Homo sapiens: one gene and its partners. The protein of the gene in region 4 interacts with the protein of the main gene of each other region in a pairwise test. Each region holds a gene or a part of one and is shown on either strand. Other genes may lie near its edges. The genes, in order: CDCA7L, TGFBR2, GRAMD2A and TRAF3IP3.

What was found.
Region 1: the proteins of TRAF3IP3 (region 4) and CDCA7L interact in binary tests that used the Homo sapiens proteins (3 or more experiments, as listed by UniProt).
Region 2: the proteins of TRAF3IP3 (region 4) and TGFBR2 interact in binary tests that used the Homo sapiens proteins (3 or more experiments, as listed by UniProt).
Region 3: the proteins of TRAF3IP3 (region 4) and GRAMD2A interact in binary tests that used the Homo sapiens proteins (3 or more experiments, as listed by UniProt).

Annotation. Positions count from the first base shown.
Region 1 is NC_000007.14:21,914,894-21,921,919, reverse strand, and holds part of CDCA7L (cell division cycle-associated 7-like protein), read left to right. Parts: intron 1-5,025; coding exon 5,026-5,166; intron 5,167-7,026. UniProt on the Homo sapiens protein: Plays a role in transcriptional regulation as a repressor that inhibits monoamine oxidase A (MAOA) activity and gene expression by binding to the promoter.
Region 2 is NC_000003.12:30,644,582-30,651,607, reverse strand, and holds part of TGFBR2 (TGF-beta receptor type-2 isoform B precursor), read right to left. Parts: intron 6,862-7,026; coding exon 6,693-6,861; intron 1,339-6,692; coding exon 1,148-1,338; intron 1-1,147. UniProt on the Homo sapiens protein: Transmembrane serine/threonine kinase forming with the TGF-beta type I serine/threonine kinase receptor, TGFBR1, the non-promiscuous receptor for the TGF-beta cytokines TGFB1, TGFB2 and TGFB3.
Region 3 is NC_000015.10:72,166,780-72,173,805, reverse strand, and holds part of GRAMD2A (GRAM domain-containing protein 2A), read left to right. Parts: intron 1-2,404; exon of another isoform or gene 2,405-3,866; coding exon 3,867-3,959; intron 3,960-4,809; coding exon 4,810-4,867; intron 4,868-5,239; coding exon 5,240-5,315; intron 5,316-5,966; coding exon 5,967-6,070; intron 6,071-6,713; coding exon 6,714-6,812; intron 6,813-7,026. UniProt on the Homo sapiens protein: Participates in the organization of endoplasmic reticulum-plasma membrane contact sites (EPCS) with pleiotropic functions including STIM1 recruitment and calcium homeostasis.
Region 4 is NC_000001.11:209,751,868-209,759,074, forward strand, and holds the start of TRAF3IP3 (TRAF3-interacting JNK-activating modulator), read left to right. Parts: upstream 1-4,185; 5' UTR 4,186-4,442; intron 4,443-6,630; exon of another isoform or gene 6,631-6,987; intron 6,988-7,166; 5' UTR 7,167-7,207. UniProt on the Homo sapiens protein: Adapter protein that plays essential roles in both innate and adaptive immunity. Plays a crucial role in the regulation of thymocyte development.

The DNA of each region.
Region 1 (7,026 bases), on a different chromosome or scaffold from region 4:
ATTCACACTGTTAATTCCAATAAAGACAGAGTAGACAAACAGAAACTGTACATGAAAGGAATAGCATGAAGTTGTCGATTTTTAACAAGTATTATAAATAATGAAACGGTCTTTTCACTTTCAGATGAGAATTTTCCCTTTTTTTTTTGGTTCACTAGATAGTAGTTATCCTAATTCAGAAGTTCAACTAATGTAAATATCCATTGATTGAGAAATTTTGTATTTTTGTTGTTTTCAGTTACTTGTTGTAGTTTTCTTTTTGGTGAGTCTTATGATTGGCTTTATTGTAATAGAATGGAACACAAACTTTGAAAAAAAAAAAAAAAGGTCTTGCATTTTTGTCTAGACTATGCAGCTACCCAGTGGATCGCTGCTGAATGGAACAGGAAAGTGACAGATCCTTGGGCCTAATGTATCACTGTGTTGTGGAACTGGTCATTCATTAGAAGAGGTCCCTGTGTATCCTTTCTATCAGGTCCTTCTCATATAAATCTTGCTGCCTTTGTTGCATCTGTTAGACAAATCAGTTCGTTGCATTGAGGACACTTGAATATTTTACAGTTTTTTTTTTTTTTTTGGCAAATCTTGAAGCTTGTGACTATCTGAAACTCTTTTAATACCTTTTGAAGGATCAGAGCCCTGCGTACCCCAGGAATGCACACCGTTTTTTTGAAAGTGTGCTCTTTCCTTTTGTTCCTAATCAGTAATTATAGCCCCCTAATGGTACCTCTGGAGCAGATGCAGAAGTCAAAGATGCAGAAGGAGGAATTAGCTAGTCAGACACAGGCTCGCAGCAGTGGTGGGGCTGAACACAATAGCACAGGGACTAATGCAGTTGCTGCTGGAAGCAGTTTATTCCTATCACCAACCCTCTCCATTCCTTGTATGTATTTCCATTAAATCCATAAATGGGGTGCTCCTCCTCCTTTAAACCATTTATGTTAAAAGAAGCTTCTGGGCCAGCAGGGCTGTTTGAATTTTGTAGAATGGTGAGAAGGCCAAAAGAAAAAGACTGAAATTGACACACTGTCCCTCTTAGTGCCTCTGCAGGGACTGAACTCAGTGGCTATTATGTAGCTACAACATAGGCACACTTTCATAAGTATTGTCTGTGTTTCTCTAGTCTGGGTGTTTTCCTTGCGTATTAGTTCTGAGTGCTAAACAACAACAAAAGGTGTCTTTGAAAAGATAAGGTGGCAAACATTGTTTAACATACCTCCTTGAGAAAAGTTTCAATATTTTCCCCAAGAATGATGTCAGAGTTAGGCTTTGCTAGTGCTGCACTACGTGTGGCTGGTAAAAAAATTGTTAGTGGAACTCTACTTCTGTAAGTGTTGTTCTTGTTTGTCCCTTGCAGTGATTTTATTAGATGGTGGGAAAGTGTTTGTATTAACCCTTCAGCATCACTGAACTTGGGGTATCCCATTTCTGTATTTATGTTACACTTCCTTTGATTGAACCATTATTTTCTAATTATTTTTAATCAAGAAGCATTAAAATAAGGATGAAAGTAAATAGATTAAGGATTACCAGTTTCCTAAATGGAACCTGACTAAATGTAAAATTAAGTCAACACACCCACACAGAGAATTCCACGAAGCTAAGTAGCTTTTGAATACACAACTCTGTATATGCTAGTGCAGTGGTCAAAGTGTGAGATGGAGGACCTGAGACCCTTTCACGGGTCCATGAGGGCGAATGTAATGTCATAATAATACTAAGATTATTTGCCCTTTTTGCTGTGTTGATATTTGCACTGATTGTGCAAAAGCCAAAGTGGAGAAAACTGCTGATCTTTAGCATGAATCCAGGTGGTAGCAACAAACTGTATTAGTAGTCATTGCATTCACCTCCATGCACTCAATTTAAAAAGAAAATGTCAGTTTCACATAAGAATGTTCTGATGAAACAGTAAAAATTATTAAGTCTCAACTGTTAAGGACATCTTTTTAATATACTGCATGATGAAATGGGAAGTACATGTGAAACATTTTTGCATAACCATGTACAATGATCATCTGGTTAGCTGAAGGAAAAGATCCTGTGTATAGTGAGACTATGTTCCAGGGCTAGAAAGAACTGCAAAGAAATCTTGAACTGCACTGTTTGTTGTTGGTAGTATATTGGTGGCGTCAGTTTGGCGCTATTTTGTGTTTATTGTAGATAGAGCACCACATGGATAAGTATATTAAAAATTTTGGGAATCGAGGGTTTTCCTTGTGGTGGAACGGCGATGCTAATGTGAGATGAGGGAGAGATGAGGGAGCAGAGGAAGAAGCCTCCGTGTTGGATTTGAATTCAGGGTGTCACCATGAACTTGTGATTTACCTATTTAAAATATCCTTGCTCTGTCCAAAGAGCCTACAAGCAGTGATACTTAATTAACCGAGATGCATTGTGTTCTCCGAGCTTGGTTTTTAAATGCCATTTCCCAGTGAAAGGTTTCAGGGCTCCTTGGAGAAATGGCTGATTTGAGGTCTGGGACAGGAAACATACAAGGTTAGCTTGCCATGCTTGTGTCAGAAAGCAAGGAGGTGTTGAAAGACCCTTAGTGCCATGTCAGAAAGACAGAGGATGACTTTCCAAGAAGCTCCCAATGGCCAAATTTGGGACAGTCAGCATTATGAGAGTATGGATTATAACACATTTAATAATAATTTTTAGAAATCCATGGATATACATGGTAGAAGAAAAGGGGGAGAGTGAGAGAAAGACTATATTATACAAGAATGCCAGCTACTTTGTGAAGGAGAGAGAAAATCTGAAAATTTCTCTTTTGCAGTCCCTAATGTAATAATTCATTCAAGGGTGCCCTGGCTCATGCCTGTAATCCCAGCACTTTGGGAGGCTGAGGTGAGAGGATCACTTGAGGCAAGGAATTTGAGACCAGCCTGGGTAACATAGACCCTGTCTTTATTAAAATAAAAAATATAAAAAAAAAGAATTGTCAATGGACGCTGAAACTGTTGAGCAAGATGTTATCAGGGAGGCTATTCACAGAATCTCAAGTCTCACTCTGCATATTCCTTATTAGTGACAAAGGAGAAAGGGTGTTTTTTGTTGTTGTTATTGTTTTTTGTTTTGTTTTGTTTTAAAAGCGAAGAACAAATCAGGCTGATTCCACCTTAACTTATTGACCAAACAGCAACATCACTAAAAAAAGAGACAGCCAGACCTTATGTGCTTTCCAAAGGAAGAACATAGCACTTCCTAAAAAGTAGTCTTGGCAAAAGCAAGCCAACTAGAAGTAAAGCCTCCGGATTCAACTCCCAAATTGTAAACCCAAATGAGTCTGTTAAACACCACCTTGGGGATGCAAAAAAAATAAAACTTCAGACTTGGACAGACTCCACAGTCAAGTGACCCAGCTTCTTCAAAAATAAACTGCAAGAGAAAAGAGATAAAGGAGTGATGAGAAGGGATTTAAGAGCCATGTTGATCAGTGTGAACCTTATTTGGATCATGATGCAGATAAACTAAGTTTTTAAAAAATGAGGCAGAAGAACTGTGAATACAGACTGCACATTTGATGATGATACAGAGTGACATGATACTATGTCTACAGTTGCCTCACAATAATTTAGAAGAAGGGGAGTTGGGTCGGGATCCAGGGGAAGCACAGTTAGCCTTGGGCAGATAATTACGGGGAGGATCAATGTGTGCTCATTACAATATCTTCCCATCTACTTTTGAAATATCTTTGAAAGTTTTTATAATGAAAAATTTTTTAAAAATTACTAATTAATAGTGGGATAACTTGACATTTTGTGCCCCCTTATGCAATGCATTGAGGAGTACATGTCACCTATGTAGAATGGTGACAAAAATACATAACCTGAATCTAATCATGAGGAAACACTCAGATAAGCTCAGAATACATGACATTCTACAAGGCAGTTGTCATGGTCTATCTAAAAAGAAAGTCAGTGTTGTGAAAAACAACAAAAAACAGTGTCATAAAAATCAAATAGAACAGTTGCAGATATTAAAATATAGAGTTACAGTAAATCGTACTATTGAATTAATGTTAATTATTTTCGGTACAATTATGGTTTTGTGGTTCTATGGGAGAATGTCCTTATCCGTGGGAGATATGTGCTGAATTATATTCGGGCCAATCAATACAATGTTTGCAAATTACTTTAATCAATGTGTGGGAATATATGGATTAGGTTGGCTCATATTAAATTGCTATTTTCCTAAGTTAAAAACAGCCAAATATCAGCAAATGCCCATGGTTCAACCTAATATTTGTTGAAACAGAGAAAGAAAGCAAATGCAGTGACCAATAATGGGTCTAGATAAAGAATCAACAGGTGTTTGTACTATTTTTTCACATTTCTGTGTGTTTGAACTTTTTTAAAACAAAGAATTGGGAGAAAATAGTCAACTTACAAAAATGAACTCCAGCAGATACATATTTGTGGATTAAGTGTGCTGACATTGTTCTCTCTGGGATCAATTATCCCCTAATAGCATTTGAATTCTGTTAGAATTAATCCCCAGCTACTTAAGTTGACTTACAATATAGAAAAGAAGAAAAGCTACTTATTTCATTGTATGAACTTTCTACTTTCTGAATCAGCCTATGACAAAGAAGAGAAAAATAAATAGTGTAGGTGAACATTAAGAAAAGTGCTTAATGATATTTTATGGCATCTTTTTTATGTAGATGACATTTAAAGATGCATCCACTGTAGGAGAAAAAAGAGATCATTGGTTCTTAGAAACAATTTTTCTTTTTGTCAAGAGATCAAACATGTCTTCTCTCTGGCCTGGTTTTAACATTCTCTGTAAAATAGGGTGTATATCTAGAATTTTAAGTTTTATCTCCCCCACCCACCCCACACCTTATTTTGCCATGAGTTCTTAGCTGAAGAGTGTTTTGCTGAGGGTTACTGGGGACTTCTGGGCAACCGTGGCAGTTGGATGAAGTGATGAGATCTCTCCTCCCCTCCAGAAAATGTCCCTAAGTGATTAGCAAGAACCCCTGGTTTAATCCTGCCTCTTTTGAATCCAAAACAGATCCCTAAAGAAGTGGCTGACATCTTTAACGCCCCCAGTGATGATGAAGAGTTTGTTGGCTTCCGAGATGATGTTCCCATGGAAACCCTCTCGTCAGAGGAGAGCTGCGATAGTTTTGACTCACTAGAGTCAGGGAAACAGGTATGGATGATTCCTTCCAAGCAGATGTGTTCATCTGGAGGCCTGAATCTTGGTTTGGATGTTCTTTTATTTGAACATGGTGTGAGATTGGTGATATCAGTTCATTGTCTAGCATTTTATTTTAGAAACATTATGTCTGTGTCTTCCTGTTTTAAAAAACTGGTGAGAGAACCTCGTTCACTTTGCTGTGTTAATCCTTCCCTGTACCATAATTCTTTTTTTTTTTTTTTTTTTTTTTTAAATAAAGGGACCTCACATGATCAAGTGCATTTTCTTGGCTGCCTTGGGGCTGTAACCTGTGGCGAGGCTGTGTTCAGGGTCTTCCCACAGAGGCGAGGCTGCGGCGAGGCATGAGGGATTGTGTGGTTACGGGGAGACAATTACACCTCTGTGGTCCCGTGGTGCAATTCTGTTGGCATGTCCTCTTGGAATTGCTGGGGAGAGCCTTATTCTTGCGTTAATTACTTTGATCTCTAGCACTCACAAGTTAGAGTTCTCTGACAGGTAGATTCCTGGAGGTTCACATTGTGTCCTAGTAGTAGAATGGCCAAAATCTCTACCCTTCAGTGGCATTTTCTTCTGAGTTAATTGTGGCACTCAAAATTCCTCATTCTGCCTTGACCATGGCCTCTCCAAAAAGGCAGCAAATTAAACCCACTTTGCTTCCACTGGGCAAGTCCAGGAAGGGAAGCAGTTAATTATATGTAAGTGAAGTGCCTGCTTAATTACGTGGGCCACTGTAAGTTCTGGCCTGGTGGGAGCTGTGCTTTCTGAGATCTCTGGAGGCTCCCTGGTCTCTGTCGTCCTCATCTCATTTGGCATCTCCACAGCAGTTGACCCCACCAGTAGACCTCCTTCTAACCACCTGGGTTTCTTCCTCTCTGTTACACCTTTTGCTCTTTGTTATTATTATTTTCTTTCTTTCCAAGATGGAGTATCATTGTGTCACCCAGGCTGGAGTGCAGTGGCATGATCTTGGCTCACTGCAACTTCTGCCTCCCGGGTTCAAGCAATTTTCCCAGCCTCAGCCTCCCGAGTAGCTGGGATTACAGGCTCCCACCACCACGCCTGGCTAATTTGTGTGTGTGTGTGTGTTTTTTTTTTTTTTTTTTTTTTTTAGTAGTGATGGGGTTTTGCCATATTGGCCAGGCTGGTCTCAAACTCCCGACCTCAGGTGATCTGCCCGCCTTGGCCTCCGAAAGTGCTGGAATTAGAGGCGTGAGCCACTGTACCTGGCCTGCTTTTTGTTACTGTCACTTGTTTTCCCTGTTCGTGTCCCTAAATGCAGATGTTCTCTAAGGGTTTGTCTTCAGTCTTCTCACTTAGTGAATCTTGTCTGTTGTCCTGCTTTGAGCTGTTACTGTATTCTTTTGTGGAGCTTGTCTTCTCTCTCCAGCCCCAGGTGGTTTCTGACTACCAGTTGGACTGGTCCTGGTTGCTAAGGGAGATCTGAAACTCACTTCTCCTTCCCTTGGTTGTCTTTCTGGCTTCCCCCTTTCCCCATCTTGATTTCCATCTTTTGTTCTTGGCCTTCCCTCCCCTCTTCCATCTCCTTGACTCCCGTCCAGGAGTTGATGAAACTTCTGCTGTGTTCCTGGTGTCCATCCTTCCCTTCCCTCTGCAGCTGCCGTAGCCCTCGTAGCTCTTACCCGAATGCTCATCCCTTCCTACTAGGATCTGTTATAGGATTGACCTCCGGTCAGCTCCTCCCTTAGCCCTCCATCTGAGCACAGTCAGGCGGTGGGGAGAGCAGAGCCTGTTGGATCCACCTTGAGGAGCATTTGAGCAAGGCAGAACATGTCTAAAGGGCCGAGCACAGAGCCTGGCAGGCACCGGGCATTAAGAAACAGAACAGCTGCT
Region 2 (7,026 bases), on a different chromosome or scaffold from region 4:
GACATGATAAGATCCATCGTGGGAGATAATATGAAATTCGAGACTAAATTAAAAGATGTACAGTATATCTATGTGTTCTATCTTGTTTAGAAGGAATTGTAAAAGTGGTTGGGTATAAAAAAGTGTTGCAAAATAATATTTATAGTATGATCAGATAGTTGTACTGAAAGATGGATGAGTGGATGGAAGGATGGACAGATGGATGAAAGGAGGGAAAGAGAAAGGAAGACAGGGAGAGATTGGGAGAGAGGATGGAGTGGGAGATAATATGAATGAATGATAGAGACGTGTGTGCATCTAATACATTGTCAATACAGATGATCTGTTGCATTGGGAGTGAGGGGAGGACGAAAATGTACTTTCATTTTTAATTTTCACACACTGTTGGATTGTTTGAAATTTTTGATGACGAGCATATACTACTTTTGTAATTAAAAACCACTGAATTCTCTTCTTATTAAAAATTGAGGGAATAGTGTATGCCTTCCTTTCAAGCTGAGTAAACGCTGAACTTCAAAGATGGAGGCTAGTATCTAATCTACTCTTCTCCTGGCTCTAGGGGTAAACTTTGGCTTATTATTTCCTCTCTGTATTGCAATGTTTCTCTCAAATGGGATCGATGACAAGTACCCTAAAGACAAATCCTGGGACTATGTACAAGAAACAACATCAGTTATAAAGAAAGTCCTCCTCCAAGATTAAACAACCCCATCCAAATCTTTAGAACAATAGTTACCAAATTTTAGCTGCACAGAATTACTGGGAGGGCTTGTTAAAATACAGATAGCTGGGGTTCACCCTCTATGTTTCTCATTTAGTGGGGCCTGAGAATCTGCATTTATAACAGGTTCCCAGGTGATACTGATGCTGGCTGCTCAAGAGGCCGCACTTTGAGAAACACTGCTCTAGGTGAAAGAAACTATTTGTCAAAGACAAATAATAATGTTTGCCCCAGTCAACCATATTTGATGAGAACCAGAACAAACCCTGCTACTCCCCAAGCCCCTCTTTCCACCAGCTGAATGAGCTCCTAATCCACTGTATGCAATCCACCACAGGAGGAATGTGCTCTATGACACTGCAGACCAAGGATACAAAAAATTGGCACAGATCTCAGGTCCCACACCCTTAAGAGAAGAAAACTCACCTTCTGAGAAGATGATGTTGTCATTGCACTCATCAGAGCTACAGGAACACATGAAGAAAGTCTCACCAGGCTTTTTTTTTTCCTTCATAATGCACTTTGGAGAAGCAGCATCTTCCAGAATAAAGTCATGGTAGGGGAGCTTGGGGTCATGGCAAACTGTCTCTAGTGTTATGTTCTCGTCATTCTTTCTCCTAGAGTGAAGAGATTCATTGGAAGCGAGGGGAGAGGGAGAGAGAGAAAGAGAATAAATGAATAATATGGCCTCCAGACAGAAAGGCAATCTGGAATACTTTTCCTTCATGAAGTTGTTCCTAACAACGGCAGCTGGTTCCTGTTCTCCAGCATTCGCAGGCTGTCCTATAGTCTCCTATGCTTTTCTACTCTTTTCTGTTTTTCCTTTGTTTATTCTTGGAACCCATTTGTGATTATAAACATCACCTGGAGCAGACAGCGTTCCACGGGGCAGTCCTGGTGGAGAACTTTACATATTTAAGTCTTAATTAAATCATTAAAGGGGAAGACATGGAAAAAAAGAACATTCCTAGGTACTCAGGATAATTTTAAATCTTCCATCCTGAATGTAATGCAAACCTCACATCACACCCCTAGTTTAAGTGGCAAAATCTGTCCTGTCTAGCTATACTGTTTTCAAAGAGCATGCCTGGGGAAATAGTCACAGTTCCTCTTTTTTTTGTTTGCTGGGCCCCAGAGCATTGCGTGTAAAGGGTATACTCCTTGTCAACAGCTGGTTCTGCTGAGAAAAACGGGAAGAAACATCGCAGATAAAGAACTGCAGTCTTTCCCAAATTACAGAAAGGAGCAATTCAGAAAAAACAAACAAACAAAAAAAACAAATAAATAAAAGAAATGGAAAGGGATGTCAGGGTGTTCTTCATTTACAGTTCAATGAAATATTTTATGCTGTCATAAACTAACTACTTTGACAGTATCACTTCATAGCACATATTTGAAGACTAATTTAGCCCAGGGCTCAGAGAATTTCTCACATAGCATTTTCCTTGGGCCCTAGGAAATGCTCAATTGGCCGTCAGTGTACATTAGATTTTTAAACAACATGATTAATGCCCACTATTATAATTGAACAAAAGAACATTTTGGCTCTCTTGGAAAAGGGTATCACCTCTCTATCTACCTCCCTCTGCTCCCTCATGAACATACTATCTTGGATGACTGTCCAACAAGGCTAGTCTGACATCCACCCTTTCACCTCTGTCCTTTTTAGATGCAAAATACCTGTTGTCTTGAATCGCATTCTCTCTGTCTAGAGAGGGAGCGGAAGGAAGGGCTAATCTGGTCCAGTCAGTTTTGCTAGAGTAATCTTCTATGAAGATTCTGAGTGCACACATGAGCCAATGCATGCATGTACTCACTCACCAATTTTCCCCTAATCCTCCCTGCCCCATGCACAAAGGCTCACTGCTCACAGCAAGGAAAACGGAAGGCAGGCTAGAAGCAAGAAGCAGCTAAGACACAGCTTGCACCTATAAAAGATGCGGGGCCATCCCCATGAGAGAAAGAGCAACTTTGACCAATACCACTTTTTTAGTGCTTAAGTCAAGGACATTAAAGGACAATATGTTGACAAAGGGATAAGGGCAAGGGTATGGGTTAGGACAATCCAGGCAGGAATGGTGCCAGTGTCAACATCCATGCAGCCCAGAGTTGACTCCAGTGGAGGTACATGTGTCTGCTTGTGAAGGGGCTCAAGGGTTCTTAAACTAGAATTCCGAAAGACACAAGAGGAGCAAGGCTTTGCTAAGTTGGTCCCTGCTGTGACAGGAAGAGTGACAAGCAGAATAATTGGTTGAGGGTGGCTATCAGGACACCAAATGAAACTAAATGAAAGTTGGCATGATCATACAACAAATGATGTATAATTTGGAAATCTACCCATCTTTAACCCCAAAGCTACTTGGCAGTCTTCAAATCAGCTGTAGTCATGGAACAAGAACACCTTCCTCCCTGCCCCCACAGTTTTGTGTGTGTGTGTGTGTGTGTGTGTGTGTGTGTGTGTGTGTGTAGGTTGTTTTTGGTTTGGGTAATAAAACGAAGGTATGCTGTGCCCACAGAAAGGCATGGTCTCTTTTCCTTGTGACGCTTATAGAGGCCTAAGAAGGAACTGTGAGCCATGAAAGAAAGCTGCTCTATAATTATTGGGCAGCTCTTCCAGAGCCTCCGGTTTTCTACCTCTTAGCTACTGAGAGAACTAACATCACAGAGAGAAAACAACTGTAATACTTGAGACCTGGTAAAGCCCTTAACTGCTTTCTCCACTCACTCCTGTAACAGCCAGGCACAGCTAACTTTTCAAACTCTTTTTGGATATAGCTGAGCATAGGAAAGGTAAATACAAAGAAGTAAATACGGACTTCTTTTTTTGTCCTGCAACATTTGCTCTGAGCCACTGAAGAGGTTGTCAATTTCCACTGAAAGAAGAACCAACATGATAAAATTAATTTTGGAGGCTGGGCACGGTGGCTCATGCCTGTAATCTAAGCACTTTCAGAGGCCGAGGCAGGCGGATCACAAGGTCAGGAGTTCGAGACCAGCCTGGCCAACACAGTGAAACCCCATCTCTACTAAAAATACAAAAAATTAGCCACGTGATGGTGGTGTGCACCTGTAATCACAGCTACTCAGGAAGCTGAAGCAGGAGAATCGCACGAACCCGGGAGGCAGAGGTTGCAGTGAGCCCAGATCACGCCATTGCACTCCAGCCTGGGCAACAGTGGGAGACTCCCTCTCAATTTAAAAATAATAATAATAATAATTTTGGTTATAAAATATTTCTATCCTTGGAGGCAGCTTAAGCATTTTATATGGAATGGGCACACAACTGACATTAGTTAAATGAATGAATGAATGAATGAATGAATGAAAAAACACTAAAACTGATTAAAAAAACAACAACACTGAAATCTACAATCATAGTAGAGCCTTTCAGTTTCCACACTGGCTATTTTTACAATAGCCTCCTGTCTTAGTTTAGGTTTCCTGGAAACAGACCTTGAGGCTGTGAGAGTTCTGTGCAGGAGGTTTTTGGAGATGCATCTGTAAGCGACTAAAGGCAACAGTATTGCACAGAAGGAAAAAGCTAAACTATAATGCAGGTTGCAGCAAAGGCCTCAGTGAATGCCTTGGAAACTCTGAAAATGGGATGTCCTTCAAAGATGTACCACATTATGGCAAAATAACCAGGAATTTGTTTCTCTGCATCAACTAGCCATGGGATGATGGCTACCCATGAAAAGTGTCCAACGTGAATGAGGCAGCTCCCATCACTGGAGGGAAGGCTCAGCAGTGATCCTTCAACAGCCAACACTCCCAGGGAATGAGTGCCTTGGTCATGAAGGAGGATCAAGGAGGGCACTATAGCGTACCCTATACTTCCCCTTCTCATTATCAACACCCCTGGCTTCACGGGAGAATTTTCTTTGGCCAGCACAGGTCAAAATAATGTTCATTGTATTTACCCTTTATAGCTGGGACACAGAAAAGACAGGGAGGCCTCCTCTCTTCGACATGCTCACATTTTTTTGAGGCTAGCAAAGCCTCTATTCTAGAGAGACTTGATTCACATTTAATGATTTGGGCTTGTATTACTGGTCAGGAAAACAAAAATCTTAATTAAAAGAGCCTTTTTGGGTTGCAAAAGCAAGTGCTCACACCACCGTAGATATTTAAGAAACCACGGAAGGAAGCTTTGAGGCCATCTAGTCTGGTGTCTCAATCTTTCCTGCATTCTATTTGACATATGGTCATCCAGCCTCTCCTGAACTTCACTTGGTGCTTACAGAAAAGGAAGCCTGTTCTGCTGTTGGGAAACCATGATTGTGAAAATGTCTAAACTTATGCTGAGCACAAGTCTGCCTGCCTTGCAAATGTTATGGATCCTCCCTCTACCCTTCAGAGTTATGCAGAATATGTTTATTATATTTTCTACCTGAGAGCCTTTCAATTTCATCAGCAGAACCCACGATCTCTCTTCACTGTACTAACCATGTCTAATTGCCCAGGCCATTCCTCAGACAGCATGATTTCTAGGCCTCTAACCACACTGGTCCCTCTCCTCTGAACACATTCTTTGTCCAAATCCTTTCTTTGAAAGCGTTACCTAGAAGTGGACATGGACAGGTATCATATCATATTGGCAAGTATGTCATGACAAGTCTTTGCTGTTAACATTCCTTCAGTTCTTAAGAAACCAGTTCATCCCGTGGTATGTACAGAAGTTTGCAAGGTTTCCAGATCTATCATCAAGGCTAGCTTTACATGGTCTAGGGGTCTCAAATGACTCATTCCCAAAAAAGGGGGAGAGATATTTGGGTTTATATTCTTGTTTGTCAACTAGCCAGGAGACACATAAGTTACTTTTTTTAAAATGGCCAATAAATTAAAAACATCAGAATAAGTCTGCAAAATGTCATATCTCATTAATGAATTTATGTACTTTTGTAAAATTACAACTCTTCTAAAGATCAAGGTTATTTCTTGTTCATGCTCACAATCTATAACCATGAATTAATCAAATGATTCATGAGTATCCACTGTGTATGTATAATTATTATTTGAGATGTATGTATGAGTTGGAGGGAATGAGAGAGAGAGAGAGAGAGAGAGGAGAAAATGTGATCCGATAAAAATATATAGTTCTGGTCGGGCATGGTGGCTCATGCCTGTAATTCCAGCACTTTGGGAGGCAGAGGCGAGTGGATCACCTGAGGTCGGGAGTTCGAGACCAGCCTGGCCAACATGGTGAAACCCCGTCTCTACTAAAAATACAAAACTTAGCCAGGTGTGGTAGTGGGCACCTGTAATCCCAGCTACTCGAAAGGCTGAGACAAGAGAAACGCTTGAACCTGGGAGGTGGAGGTTGCGGTGAGCCAAGATTGTGCCATGGCACTCTAGCCTGAATGACAGAGCAAGACTCCATCTCAAAAAAAAAAAAGAAATATGTAGTTCTGAGCTGAGAGAAAGAAGTCATATCTATCCCAATGGTTATATGAATAATATAACCAGAATTTCTGACTAAAAAAACAGGTTGTTTTTGTGGTTCTCCAAGTAGATTCCCCATTTTTGGCTGGTAGTTTTCTCTTCCAACAGCCAACCTTTCATCACCTCTTCTTCCAGACCTGAGATTGCCTCAAGAGAACAAAGCTCCTGGTCTCACTATGGGGTGCTGAGGAGGTGTCGGTTAAATGACTACTAAGCGGCAAATCCCTCTTCTTGATACAAGAAAGAGTTTCCAGATTTATTATATTAAAGATCATTTTATGATCTTTACATTTATCATGATCATTTTATAATCATGATACGTTTATATACCCACATAAACGTACACATACATGCAGAGAACACCCCTAGAAACTACATTTAATAATCGAAAGAGAGATGGTCTAAAGGAAAGGGAAATGGAACAGGTGTTTACATTTAGGAGACAGAGATACACTGACTGTGTGTACTATGAGAATACATTATGTAAAAAGGGGAAAAGAAAGAATAACTTCTTAAAAGGCTTGCTTACCATACAGCCACACAGACTTCCTGTGGCTTCTCACAGATGGAGGTGATGCTGCAGTTGCTCATGCAGGATTTCTGGTTGTCACAGGTGGAAAATCTCACATCACAAAATTTACACAGTTGTGGAAACTTGACTGCACCGTTGTTGTCAGTGACTATCATGTCGTTATTAACTGAGGAGAGAGAAAGATATATTAAATGATTATCCAACTGCCAGGCAGCCTGCCAATGAATTCCTGAAGATGTTATGCAATTTCAAATGAACTTGATGTCATGAGAATGAATCTGAAGAAAGGCAAAATAATTCCTTCACATCAGATTAGAATTATCTGGTGTAT
Region 3 (7,026 bases), on a different chromosome or scaffold from region 4:
AGATGCCCGCCACCATGCCCAGCTAATTTATATATTTTTAGTAGAGATCGGGTTTCACCATGTTGGCCAGGCTGGTCTTGAACTCCTGACCTCAGGTGATCCACCTGCCTCAGCCTCCCAAAGTGCTGGGCTTACAGGCATAAGCCACTACACCTGGCCAGGAGTTGGCTTTTAATTTAAAGAGACTTGAAAGTTGGCCGGGTTTGGTGGCTGAGCCTGGTCTGAAGGCAGGAAAGCTCCTCCCTGGAGTTGTCGTGAGCGCCTGCTGCATGCTCAGCACTGGACTCAGGGGATTCAATGAAGGACCAGGCAGAGTCTGTGAGCCCCTGGAGATGCACAGTCATGGCACACAGACACAGTGTGACAGATGCTGAGCAGAGACTTCCGATCAGGGTGCTGTGAGTGAGTATCTGAAGCAGGGACTACTCACCTAGGCTGGGGGAGGGCTGAGGGAAGGCTTCTCTCCCTGAGACAGTCACATTTGAACCTAAGGATGTGTTTGGTTTAGAATCCATGCAAAGACATGGTTATCTATGCAAGATTAGATAATCCATGCAAGATTATAATTATACCCAGTTTCTAAGGCTCAGCTTCCTTTTCTCTAGGAACCCCACTGTATTTCAGTTCCCAGGGATCTGTGCATCCTCTGAGCTCCTGCAGTCCTGAGAATTTGACTCACATTCTCAAGCAACAGGCTCCCTGCCTCTGAAAGCACTGTCCAAGCTCCTTCCCATTGTCATCCCGTTCTATCCCTCATCCATCCTTCAGTCTGGGATGCAGGTTCTTCAGAGCTGAGCCCACAGAATTTTTCCCTGGCGGCCCCATGGATTCACTGCCAGGCCCACGCTGTAATGGCTCAGTGGTCTGACTTGCATATCTACTCCCCCCAGGCCTGTCCTGTGAGAGGACTGAGACCAAGCGAGAAACATACATGGAAGAAATAGATGGAATCTCCCATGCAGTAATTACACACAGGCACAGCAGAAATACCACAGACAAAAGAGAAACGACAAACTGGGGAAAACATCACAAAAATGATAAACTAAGGATTAACGTTCTCAATAAAGAATTTACAGGCCAGGTATGGTGGCTCACACCTGTAATCCCAGCACTTTGGAGAGGCCAAGGCAGGTGAATCACCTGAGATCAGGAGTTCAAGACCAGACTGGTCAACATGATGAAACCCCATCTCTGCTAAAAAATTTATATATATATAAATAAATTAGCCAGATGTGATGGCAGGTACCTGTAATCCCAGCTACTCGGGAGGCTGAGGCATGAGAATCACTTGAACCTGGGAGGCGGAGGTTGCAGTGAGCTGAGATCACACCACTGCACTCCAGCTTGGGTGACAGAGCAAGACTCTGTCTCCAAAAAAAAAAAAAAAGGCTAGGCATGGTGGCTCACACCTGTAATCCCAGCACTTTGGGAAGCTGAGGTGGGACGATTGAGCTCAGGAGTTTAGGACCAGCCTGGACAACACAGTGAGACCCCCGCTGTCTACAAAAAAAATGAAAACCTTAGCCCGGCATGGTGGAGCATTCCTGTAGTCCCAGCTACTTGGGAAGCTGAGGTGGGAGGATCACATGAGCTCGGGAGGCTGAGGCTGCAGTGAACCAAGATTGCGCCACTGTACTGTAGCCTGGGCGACAGAGTGAAACCCTGTCTCAAAAAAAAAAAGGCCGGGCGTGGTGGCTCATGCCTGTAATCCCAGCACTCTGGGAGGCCAAGGCAGGGGGATTATAAGGTCAGGAGTTCGAGACTAGCTTGGCCAATATGGTGAAACCCCCGTCTCTACTAAAAAATACAAAAATTAGGCACAGTGACACACGCCTGTAGTCCCAGCTACTTGGGAGGCTGAGGCAGGAGAATTGCTGGAACCCAGGAGGTGGAGGTTTCAGTGAGCCAAGATCACGCCACTGGACTCCAGCCTGGGCGACAGAGAGAGACTCCATCTCAAAAAAAAAAAATAAAAAAGCCAGAAAAAATTTATACAAATGAAGAAAGAACTTCAATACAAATGAAGAAAGAATTTCACCTGTGAATTCTCTATAAGACAATGAACTTCCAGTGGTTAATAATTATTTGGAAAAAACTGTTCAACCTACCAGTAAGCAGAAATACAAATGAAGACAACGTATTTTCACCTATCAGATTTGCAAAGGTGAGCGAGAGACAATATCCAGAGAAGGGCATGAATATGGGGAAACAGGCACCTTCATGTCGTGCTGATGGCTGGGTTAACTGGAACAGCATCTGTTCATTCTCAATCCACTAATTTCACTTCTGAGAATCTATCTTAGGAATGGACAGTGAGTGACATGGGAAATTTCTCATGAAATCAGGTTAAGCCACAGAAGTAGGGTATACAAATTATAGATTATATAACCATTTACATAGGTTATATGTTTATCATACATTTTTTATTTGGGTGATTTTTGGGGAATCTTTAGGTGATTTTGATCTTATATATATTTTTCATATTTTCTATAATCTTTAAAAATCAAGGGAAAAAAAAAAACCTCTGTGAAATGTGACATGATGGAACCAAATAAATCCAGAAATCAACTTTGAGAGTCAAATCTCTAGCAAAATCTGTCACTTCACAAGACTGTTGTAGGTATATGTTGATATGTGTGGCAAAATCCTCTCTAAGGTTGAGGACAGAGGTAACCAGGCCACATGGCCATGGCTGGGCTGATTTTGTGGGTGAGGTCACTGGCTGTTCACTGTAGGACCGGACACAGCCTGTCCCTTGGCAGGTCTCAGTTTCATAATCTGTACAATGGTATGGTGGGAGCGGGTGAGGCTGAATCAATCTCTGAGGGTCCTGGCAGATCTTGGGCTGAGGCGAAAACTCTGTTCTTGAAGAAGAGAACTTTGGCTGGCCTCAGTCACAGAGCGGAGGGTGACTGAGCATTGAGATTTGTAGGTTCCAGGCTCCAGCTCCTAATCTGCAGCAGGACCACTGCACGTGACCTTGTTACCTGTTCCTGACCACCACACTGCCCCAGCACGGCCCTGCTTCTTGGCCACCCTCTCTTTCTTGGTCAGCCCCTGGGCCCACTTGGTTGGGGCTGGCTTGACGGCTCAGGCTTTATTGATGTGTAGCCTGGAGGAGCAGGAACAGGGTAATGATTCTTTGGAGCGATTAGTGGAGGCAGGAACTCAAAGGCCATTGGAGAGCCCGACCTGCCCAGGGAGAGAGGATCTGTTCCCTCCTACGCTCTCCCTCAGGGACATTTTTGAGATGGTTTGGCTCTCATCATCAAGCTGTCCTGACTGTCCAAGGTGGCTGAGGCCACTTCCTGGTATAAGACGGCTCCTCCCCTCCTGGCCACACTCACCTGTAGGCTGATGGGCGTCCACCTCCCACACCTTCAGCGCATCAGCTCCTGAGCTTTGATAAGGCCTCCTGTGCTCAGCCTACTTTCCCGGAACCTGATGGTTTACAGTCATGCTGCGCGGGTACTTTGGACACTTTTGTTCTCGGCATAAGCGAGTCTCAGGGTCCTCCCTCTCAGTGTGCCTCCTCAAGGGTGGGGCTAGAGGCCTCACTCAGCCTGGCCTACGAGCTGCCTGGCACTGGAGATGAGGTAGACAGGTTGATTTTCCTCCCAGCCTAGGCATAAGCAGAACTTCTGGCTTTCGGGAAAGACGCTGTGTGAGACCCGCCTACTCCGTCAGCCATCCCAGAACCTCTGCCTGCGCTGCTGCCTCTGAACTGTGACATTTTCAGTGTCACCCTCAATATCAGGGCCAGTCTTGGGTGGGGGCCAGAGGCAGCGGCCATGGGCATGGTGGGGCTGTTAGGGAAAGGTGTCCTCATGAAGCCCCCTTCCTGATATGGGCCTGTTTTTCCCTAGCAACCAACAAATGCACAGAAAGACAGCTTCTCTGAACAGTCCTGTGTCCTGCAAAGAGAAACCAGACAGAGTTGAGGAGCCCCCGGACTACAGGTGAGGACCCCTTTCCCAGTCATAGATACACACAGACTAGAGGGTGGGAAGCCCTCAGGAAGTGACCTGTTTGTAAGAGGACCTCAAGGCAGAGCCGGGGCCCCTTTGCAGGTCTGTGAGGTCAGGCACAGGCTGCCCCAGGCTTCTTCCTCCCGCCCCTCAAGACTGTCCCAGTGCACTGGGACCTAGCAGAGTCCATGCTTCTCGGGTTTCCAGCCTCCTCCCTGCTCACCTGTGCTCTGGGCCAACCTGGCCAAGGCAAAGGTTTACCTTTTTTTCTCAGTGCCATCCCCCTCTCCCAGTGTGGTAGCCTCAGCCAGGTCAGGTGAGTCTGTGCCAAGCTCCCCGCAGCAGAGCTCAGGCCACAGGAAGGAGGCGGCAGGGAGGGCAGTCCTGCTGGCATCATGGCCTGTGGCCAGGCCCCGGCGCTGTGAGTCTGACACCTTCACCTCACCCACACCCCAAACTGTCCCTATTCCAGCACTGCCTGCTCCCCTGCTTACCCCTTGGCCAGAGAAATGGGACAGGGTCTTTGACACCCAGGTGGGAAGCTCCTCAGCATCTCTGGGAGACCAGGCGCACCTCCAGGAGATGCTGCTCACCCGCACTGGGGAAGGTGGGCCCTTGGCGACCCCTCTCTACCTCCCGCAGTGCCCTCCCCCAGGGATGAGCTGTATAGTTTAGCTGTGTGCTCGCTGTACTTGTCATTTTGCTGTGTCCCCTAGAGAAGGGTCCTAGTCTCTGATCTCTGCCTCAAGCTTCTGGCTCAAGGCCAGGGCAGAATTGGCACTGAGGATGCATGGGCAGGACTGGGGTTCCTTGTTCCCGAAATGGAATGTCTCCTTTGCAGTCTGCACTGGCCAGAAGGCTTGAAGGGTGAAGAGATAAAGAAGTGTGGCCGAGAAGGGGTAAGTCTGGAGGCTGACTTCTCACTATTCACCCAGGAAGGGGTCCTGGGCTGCCAGAATTCAGTGACTTTTGGCTCCTTGGCCACCGGGCCTGTCATCAGGAAATCAGGAGACCTGAGTGTGTATCCCTTCCTGGGTGGGAGTAGTGTGTCCCCCTCTGCTAGTACAAGCTGCCTGTCAGGACCTAGCAGCACCAGGAGACAAGCTGTGCTTGGCACACAGCCCTCCATACTCACTGGCTGCTTACTAGCTGCCTCATGCTAAGTCCCCAGCATGGGCCGGGGGGCTGTGGCATTTCCTGTTGGCTGGAGCAGGGCCCCTTTGGCGGTCTCATCTCCCAGCGCTTCTCAGACGCAGCCTGTGTGTTTGCAGATAACACTGAATAAATACAACCAGCAATACCACAAGCTGTTTAAGGATGTTCCCTTGGAGGAAGTGGTTCTCAAAGGTGAGCTGTCTCCCGGTATAGCTGGTTAGGCACCCAGAGTGCCTGGGGCCAGGGGCCTCTGCTCTGGAGCCTCCAAAGCACGACTTAGAAATGGGAACTGGCTGTCCTTTAGATGTGGACCACTCCCCTAGAATGTGAGAAGACTGGGCTGGTGAGAAGACTGGGCTGGTTTGGACATAGCATTGCATTTTTGAAGGTTTTCTTGGGGAAACGTCAGGGCTTTGGAATCTTGTGTCCTGCTCTTACTGGTGACTTCTTACCTGCTCTGGCCTCTCACTGAGCAGGTGGGGGCATTTGCACAATCAAGGCCCTTGGGGCAGAGCAGAGCAGGGAAAGGTCAGGGATTCTGCCTGAGGTGGTGAGAATGCAGGCTTGGAGATCAGGGCAGGAACTTGCCTGGACCCTCTGGAGCAAGGGTGGAGAAGGAAGAAACATCCAGCAGGCTGGTGGAGTGGAGGAGCAGTCAGGAGAAGGACCCTTCGACGCTGGGGAATGGACTGTTTGGGGTTTGGGGCCTGCGGTGGGGAAGGGGGAGTCTGAGGAAGACAGGTCCTGAGGCTGGACTGTGGACTCCAGAACGTGAGGACCCAGGTCCTGGGGCTTCCTGGGCTGACCTTGCTTATGGCCATTTTCTCTCCTGTGACATCCTAGTGTGTTCCTGTGCCCTCCAGAGGGACTTCCTCCTCCAGGGCCGGCTCTACATCTCCCCCAACTGGCTCTGCTTCCATGCCAGCCTCTTTGGCAAGGATATCAAGGTAGTAATGAGTGGTGAGGGCTGCCATGACCCTGTGAGGGGAGCCAGCCTCCTGCCCCACGGGCATGCCTCAAAGTCATGCCTATCTCTCTGCGTGCTGGGCCCCGGGTGAAGCCCCTTGCTGGTTGGATGCGCAGCTTCGAGGCATCCCATCCAGTGTCCAGGAAAGTAGTCCTGCCCCTTCAAAAACAGGGGCCCAATCTGGACCCCACATCTGGCCTGAGCTGGCCTGAACAGTTCACAGCCAAATCATTCTGCCTCTGGGTATTTCAGAAATGCTTTGAGAATCAGAGTGGGATATCACATTTAGGCGGAGCCCTAGCTGTGGCCAAGAAGTAGCCTGGGGAGCTCCATTACTAGAGTATGAGATTTACCAGAGCCACCATCCTTGGCCTCCTGGATAACAGGGATCATACCTATGTGACAGCCAAGAGTGACACATCCTGCCAAGGCTGGGGCAGGGTGGCAGGGACAACTGGAAGGGGAGCCTGGATGAAAAGGTAGAAGGTTCAGAGACTTCCCCACATGGGGCCAGGCTTCCCCATGGTGGCCATGCTGGGCTCACAGCTGGGTCCCTAGGCAGGGAGCAAAGGGACCACGTCCTTGGGGGTTAGTCCTGAGAGAAGCATCCCTCTCCCTCTCAGGTGGTCATTCCTGTGGTGTCTGTGCAAATGATCAAAAAACACAAGATGGCACGGCTCCTTCCCAATGGACTGGCCATCACCACCAACACCAGCCAGAAGGTCAGTGCACTGGGCCCATGCTCCCTTGTCAGTCTCCCGCTCCCAGCCCTGACAGCCCACAGTCTGACTCGGGCACATTCCCAGGTCTTTATTTCACCCCACCCTGCAGCTCTCCAGTAGGTATTTCAGGCCGTACAACAAGCTGGAAGAGAAGTTCCTAGGCAGAGCTTCTGTTGGCTCTCATGGCCTGATACCCCTGTGGGCCTGTGCCCAA
Region 4 (7,207 bases):
GTCACAGCCAGTGAGACCACCTTTCTTATGAGCCTACAACAAAAAGTAACTTGTCCCTTGCTCAATGCTGGACCCACAAGAACGGATCCACAGTTATTTGAGCCTTATGGTTAGGCCTTTCAGATTCTTAGAATCTAAACAACAGATAAATCTCTTGCTAATATTGAAAGTCTCTTACAGCATAAATTTGAGGTTTCATTACACGAAAAGGCTCTCTACCAACAATGATGATACAAAGCAAGCAAAGACAAGAGGAGGACTTAGAACTCTGTCCTGCCACAAATGTACAGTCATAACTCGACAGAGCAGCAACCTTGCAAACGTAGGAGTCAAGGAAATACTTGTCTTCCTCCTGGTGAGTTTAGACTGTATCATCTCTGAGAATGAATATTTGTCTTTGGGATGTTTGTGTGGACATCTGAGTAAACAGTTACCAGCTAGACACTTGGAAAACTAAGGAGGAGAGTCTGCAAGTCACCTGATAAGGAGAACTTGAACTTGAATGCGAACAGACTTAAGTATGCCTGCCCTGAGCTGTTCTGCAAAATTTGGAGTGCCAAGGCCGCTGTGGACTATCCTATTAAGAGTGTCTGCAGCACTATTCTAGAATGAATAACTTAGACTTGAGGAATGCGGTGCTGAAGAAACCTTGTCAGGAGTGTAGGGAAGGATTCTAAGGCAAGAACAACTCTTATGAATGAGGTTGCCATTTCCCAGAAGATAGGTAGGAGTCACCCTGTAGAGTGGAAAGAGGAGTGGGATTAGAACTGGTAACACCCATGAGGGGACCCCCATAAAGTGTTTAACTTCATGGTGGCTCATGCCTGTAATCCTAGTACTTTGGGAGGCTAAGGCAGGTGGATCACTTAAGGTCAGGAGTTCGAGACCAGCCGGGCCAACATTGCAAAACCCCGTCTCTACTAAAAATACAAAAAATTAGCCAGACGTGGTGGTGCATGCCTATAATCCCAGCTACTCCAGAGGCTGAGGCACCCGGGAGGCAGAGGTTGCAGTGAGCTGAGATCATGCCACTGCACTCCAGCTTGGGCAACAGAGCGAAACTCCATCTCAAGAAAAAAAAAATTTTTTTAACTCCTTAGTGCTGTCTCTTGGAGTATGGGAGAAGTCATATTAGCATATAGTTTAGTTACCCCAACTGTACAATAAAATCTGATAATCTTACACATGCTTGTGTGGTATTGTGAAGCAACCAGGCTATAAAGGAAAGGGTAGCTTACCCCATACTCATCGCCTCATGGGGGACTACACAGGGCCCAGCATCTATCAAGGAAACTGTTTCAGAATATGACCATCAAAAAAGGGAGCCGTTGTTCCCATTGAACCTGGAAATGATGAGGAGAAGCAAAGGATACTGGCCACTAAAAGCCTGGTGCCCAGCTCAAGAGCAGCCTGAATTAAACCCTCTATTGGAGGCCAGCTGATGATTACACTACAAATCTCTACTTGAGCTTAATTTGGTAAATTCATTTTCTTAAATCCATTTTATCTAGATTTTAAAAATCATTAGCATAGTTACACAAATGACTCTCTATAATTAATTTCCACCGTATCGTGGCTACTTTCCATGTATCATTCCTAAACTTTTATAATGTCTTTTCTCTTTTTTAAATTGATTTGGCTCGCTGATATTTTATTTTATTGATTTTGTTTTCTATTTGTATGTCTACCATTCCTCCCCCTGCCAGATGCACACACAAAACTGAATTTTTTTTATCAATTTTAAACAGGATTCTAACTTATTATATATTCTCCTTTTATCATTTCAAAATTCTCACCTCCTTTTTTTCTGATCATTTTTTAGCAATTCATTTGAAAATAAATGAATAGGAAATTTATTTTTAATCTTCTTGATTTAGGTAATGAAAATGTTTAAAGCTAGGAATTTTCCTTGCATTCTGCTTGGCCATACCTCACAGATTTTCCTCATAATGTTGCCACTATCACCGTTTTCAATGCATTCTTAATTGCAGATTTGAAATTCCCTCTATCTTTTCAGAGTAAATGGGAAGAATTTTTTTCCAAGAAGTTAAAGTGTTTCTTTCTTCCATCTTTTGTTATTTATTTCAATTGTATTGTACTGTGGTCAGAAAATCCTGCCATAATAGATCAACTTTTCAAAACATATACTGAGGTTTACTTTTTGATCCATATGGTCAATTTTTTTAATGTCTCGTGGGCATTTGAAAATAAGGTATATTTTCTATTCTCAAAGTTCTGTGTGTGTGTGTGTGTCTTTTTCAATATAGATAGATAGGTATGACAACCTTATTAATTGTTTTGTTCTCAGAACACAATGTTAAGGGCTCAAACCTACTGTCAAGCAAACCTGGGTCCAACACTTTCTGTGTGATCTTGAGCATATCATTGACCACTCTAAATCCCAGTTATCATGGGATTAGTATCCCAATGACTGCGGACTTTGTAGACATTTCTTTCTGATGTTTAATGGAGTCCAAATAGTAGGTCTCTATAGGAACTCCTATTAAAATCTCCTGTCTTTCTTTACGCTCTAATGCCCTGAACTCCCAGAATCTTCTCACTCTTCTATGCCAATAAAAATTCTCTGGCCAGGCGTGGTGGCTCATGCCTGTGATCGCAGCACTTTGGGAGGCCGAGGCAGGTGGATCACCTGAGGTCAGTAGTTTGAGTCCAGCCTGACTAACATGGTTGAAACCCCATTTCTACTAAATACAAAAAATTATCCAGGCATGGTGGCGTATGCCTGTAATCCCAGCTACTCAGGAGGCTGAGGCAGGAGAATTGCTTGAACCTGGGAGGCGGAGGTTGCAGTGAACCGAGATCGCGCAATTGCACTCCAGCTTAGGCAACAAGAGTGAAACTCCGTCTCACTCTGTCGCCCAGGCTAGAGTGCAGTGGCACATTCTTGGCTCACTGCAACCTCTGCCTCCCAGGTTCAAGCGATTCTTGTGCCTCAGCCTCCCAAGTAGCTGGGTTTACAGGCACATGCCATGACATCCGGCTAATTTTTTATATTTTTGGTAGAGATGGGGTTTCACCATGTTGGCCAGGCTAGTCTTGAACTCTTGACCTCAAGTGATCCACCCACCTGGACCTCCCAAAGTGCTGGGATTACAGGTGTGAGCCACTGTGCCCGGCCAAAATTCTCTTTTTCTGACATCTTGGGCTCCCCAAGCCCTCTGTCCTCTACTCATTCCCATCTCTATGTGTCAAGCTCCAGACACAGGGCCTTGAGCTGTTGTCTCTCATCCTGAGTAAATGCCACTTGTCTTCAGTCCTAGTGCTTGAGAATCCATCCTCTGCTTTTCCCTGCCGATTCCTTGTCCTTTTTCTCCTCAAAGAACAGAGAAAGAAGCAGAAGCAGAGAAAATGGTGACAAACTCTCCACATGTTAATAAATGTTATCACAGCTATTTTTAAGTCTCATTACCTGCCTCACATGTGTCAAACCTTAGAATTCCAAAGAGCCACATACATCACCCAACTACCACAGTGAGTAGCATCCAGACAAGGTGAATTTTACAAGGTTACAAAGCTGCTCAGTTAACTTGTCCCAATCCAGTTTCCTCTCCACTATTTTAGCCTGAACTTCTTGGGAATTTCCTGGCTGCATCATTTGTGATGGCTTCATCTTAATGCATGCAAATCAGTTCCCTTTAGTTTTTCCCTAAATTTCCTAGTCCGGTTGACCAGATAAAAAAATGTGTAGAAGACTCTGCCTTCTATTCCTTCCTTCATCCCCCAGCTACCCACCTTTACACTCCCTCCTCATTGCTCCAGAAAGGAGCAAATCCAGAGTTGGTCTCATTCCAGAATCTGAGAAAGACACCACCTACTTCAGAAGAGCAGAAACTCTTTACAACACCAGGATTGGGAAGAGGTGGCTAAAGAAAAAGGAAAATCCTTACACAAAGAACTACCTGATACACATGAAAGCCTACACTGAGAACATCTCATCTAGGTCTTACCACCAAAAAGGCATTTTTTTCCCTCTCATAGAAACCACAAAGGTCTGAATCTGACCCAGAGGACTATCCTTTTCTAATCATGGAAAGGAATCTTGACTTGAAACTGTCCAAGAGCTCCGACCAATCCAGTAGCAAGAGAAAGGGTGGCCGGGGTGCCTACTGATGGGAGGAGCTCCTGAGCCCAGCCCTGGAGGCCTCAGAGTTCAGGGGCCCACTTAGATGATACCAGAGAGCAAGAGAGAGGAACTGGGGTTTGCGAACCTTGTGGCTTTGTCTGTTTCCTGTTTCAGCAAGGCTGCTGTGCAAAAAGAAAGACGGTACCAAGAAGGGACGTGTTAATGGGGCCCAGACCTATGGATTGAAAGCGTGTGCTTTACCCATCTGCTGTCTTGCTCCATCTGAGACCAGAGCCAAGATCTGCCCAGGACTGGAATGCTTTCCCGAGTGGCTTGAGTTGGAGCCTGGGACTAGGAGGTAACTGAGAAGGAGGATGCTTTTGTGTCCAGGTTTGGGAACTCCAACTTCGGGGTAGGGCAGAAGATGCTCTACCATCCCAGCTCCCCTGGGTGGAGAGTGGGTGGCATAGTTTAAGGGTGTCAGGGGTTTGGGTAACCAAGAAAGTATCCTGTATTGGTTTCCTGTGGCGCTAGCCATGGCACAGGGTACAGCTTGCACCACTCCTCTGTTCCAGTAGATTAGATTACATTAGATTAGGAGTGAGTCAAACGACTTAGAGTTCAGGCTACCCAGTGATATGGGCATGAATTAAATGACCTTTTACAGTTTTCTTCAAAGCAGGGATCCCTGAACACAAGACTGCCTTCCCAGCAGCTTAAGCGCAGGCCCCTCTCCCCTCAGTTCACACTGAGAGCTCTGGGCCAGGAAGGCCAACCCATGCAGGAAGCCATTCATTGTCTCCATTACAAACATGGCCAGGAAGTAAAAGCGAGACTCAGAAAGGCATGTCAAGCCACAGTCAGGTGAGGAGCCATGCCCTGTTCTCTCTCTGCAGCCTGAGAGACCAGGCTGAGCCTTCCCAGCCAGTAAACCTTCTTCCTCCAAGCTCTAAGTGAGCCCAGTCATGCTGCCAGGGGGGAACCTGAGAGATGCCAGAAAGCCTGGGCAGTGGCCAAGTGATCTTTCTTTGAACCCTACAGGGACCAGTTCCCTTTTCTTTAGCAGCCTACCCCTGTCAGCCGTCCCACATACCTTCTTGTTTTCAAGCAAGTCAGTAGGGTCCAGATATCCCAGAAACCTGGGTAGGGTTCTATGCAGCATGCTGCACCAAATCCTAGCAGGTGTGGTAGCCAAGGCATCTGGGAACACTCCCCTCTCTAAGGAGCCATTTCCACTGCAGCTCCTTTCTTGGGTAAGAAGGCTCCATGTCTGCCCCAAGGAAGCAGAGAGCAGAGCAGCTGTGTGTTTCAGTGGACTAAGGTTGGTGGCCTGGGTGGAGAGCCCAGAGAGACCTCATCTCAGGCACTGTCTTCTCCCCCACAGCCCTTTCCTCTTCGCGGCAAGAAGGTAGGAGGATTCTCAATGTTCTGCCTCCACTACAAAACCTGTGGGGAAGCTGAGCCAAACAGGGAGGGGACCTCACACCTTATGTGTGACACAGGCAGACCCCATCTCTTCCTTACCTTTCGGCTTGGTGTAATTGGGATGGCAATTATGTCCAGACCACAGAGAAGCCTTTCTCCTTATAGCCCAAACCCAGAGGTCAGAAGTAAATGTGACTTCAGCCTGGGGCCAGCATCCCCTCAATCTGGTAAACAATATACTCTGTCAAAGAGAGAGAGGGTTGAGAGGATGAGAGAAGGCATTCTTGGTCCTAGAAGTGCTAGTTTAGCTTGGAGCCTTTGTCTTACAGCACCAAGTCTTCAATATCCAACATCGGCATAACAAGGATAATATTCGCAATTACTTTTGCACCAACCTAATAGGAATACTTTATGTCTTTATTATTAAAAGGTAACATTTATTGTGTGCTCCATGCCAGGTGCATGGCCTGCATTTTGTCATTTAATCCTTATAACCTACAAGGCAGGTCCTAGCCCCATTTTATAAATGAGGAGACTGGGGCTTAGAGATGTTTAATAGCTTATCTAAAAACACACACAGGTTGTAGGTGACAGAGCCAGGACATGAGTCCACGCAGTGTGACTCCAAGAGCCAGGGTTCTCCACTGCAATCCATGGCAGAATAGCCAGGGGCTGTGGCTCAGGGATGCTGTGAGTGTAGGTTCTAGACATGGAGTTCACATGCACATAATCCTGCGTCTCCTCCATTCAGTCATTTATAACAATAGACATGGGTCTCTCAGACCCTTTCTTTTAAGTCTTTAAATAAAGAAAGTGGCAGGGAAGAAGTCAAGGGACCACCCCCTATGCCCACTCCCACCCTTATCCGAGAAGAAGAAGTAAGGAAAAACAAAGAAGAGAGCCATTCAGAATGGGTATGTAGAGGACAAACATTAATAACCTCACATTTCTGCTTGGAATCAATGCTGCCTGACACCAGAGTATGCCCCTCCAACCCTCAAGAGTCAGGCATTTGAGTGTCCAGGGCTTGACCACACAAAACTCCTCTCAGGGAAGAAGACTGCCCCACCCATGACCCTGGGGAATGAGTGGTAGGATCAGAGAGAAAACAAGAATCCTGCAGAGAATTCCAGACTGAGCCAGAGTAGCGAAGTCCCAGTAAAGGGGCAGAGAGTCTGCTACCTGTTGAGTCTGTTTGGCCTATAAATAAACCCCAAGGGGTTAGAGCTAGCAAATGCCTGCTAGTTGGTGAAGCTGAGATACCCTCCTCCCAGGGTGGTGGGTAATGAGGTCGTGGGAGGAAGAGAAGCAGCAGCAGCTGTGAGGGGGAGTCCCTCTTCCTTCATCAGTCCCTGGTCTGACTCCAGTGATCAGAGGAGGCAGGACACAGAATTTCCAACGCTCAGGATCCAGCTCATCCAAATCCAGCCCAACTCAGCAAAGTGACCAGAGGGTTCTAGGAGGATAAACTACAGAAGGTAGGTGGGGAAGAGTAGGAAAGAGAAAGGCACAGAGAAGGAAAAGGGGATTCAGGTCTAGGTGCTATGTGAATATCAGGTAAGGCCATGCAGAGGGTCATCCTGTGGCCCCTACACCAAGCCTGGCTCCCTGGAAACTTCTGATTACTGTCTTTGTTTTGTTTCTTTTCTGTTTGCAGCAGCCTTATTGAGGTACAATTCATGTGCTTGTGGGTTTGGA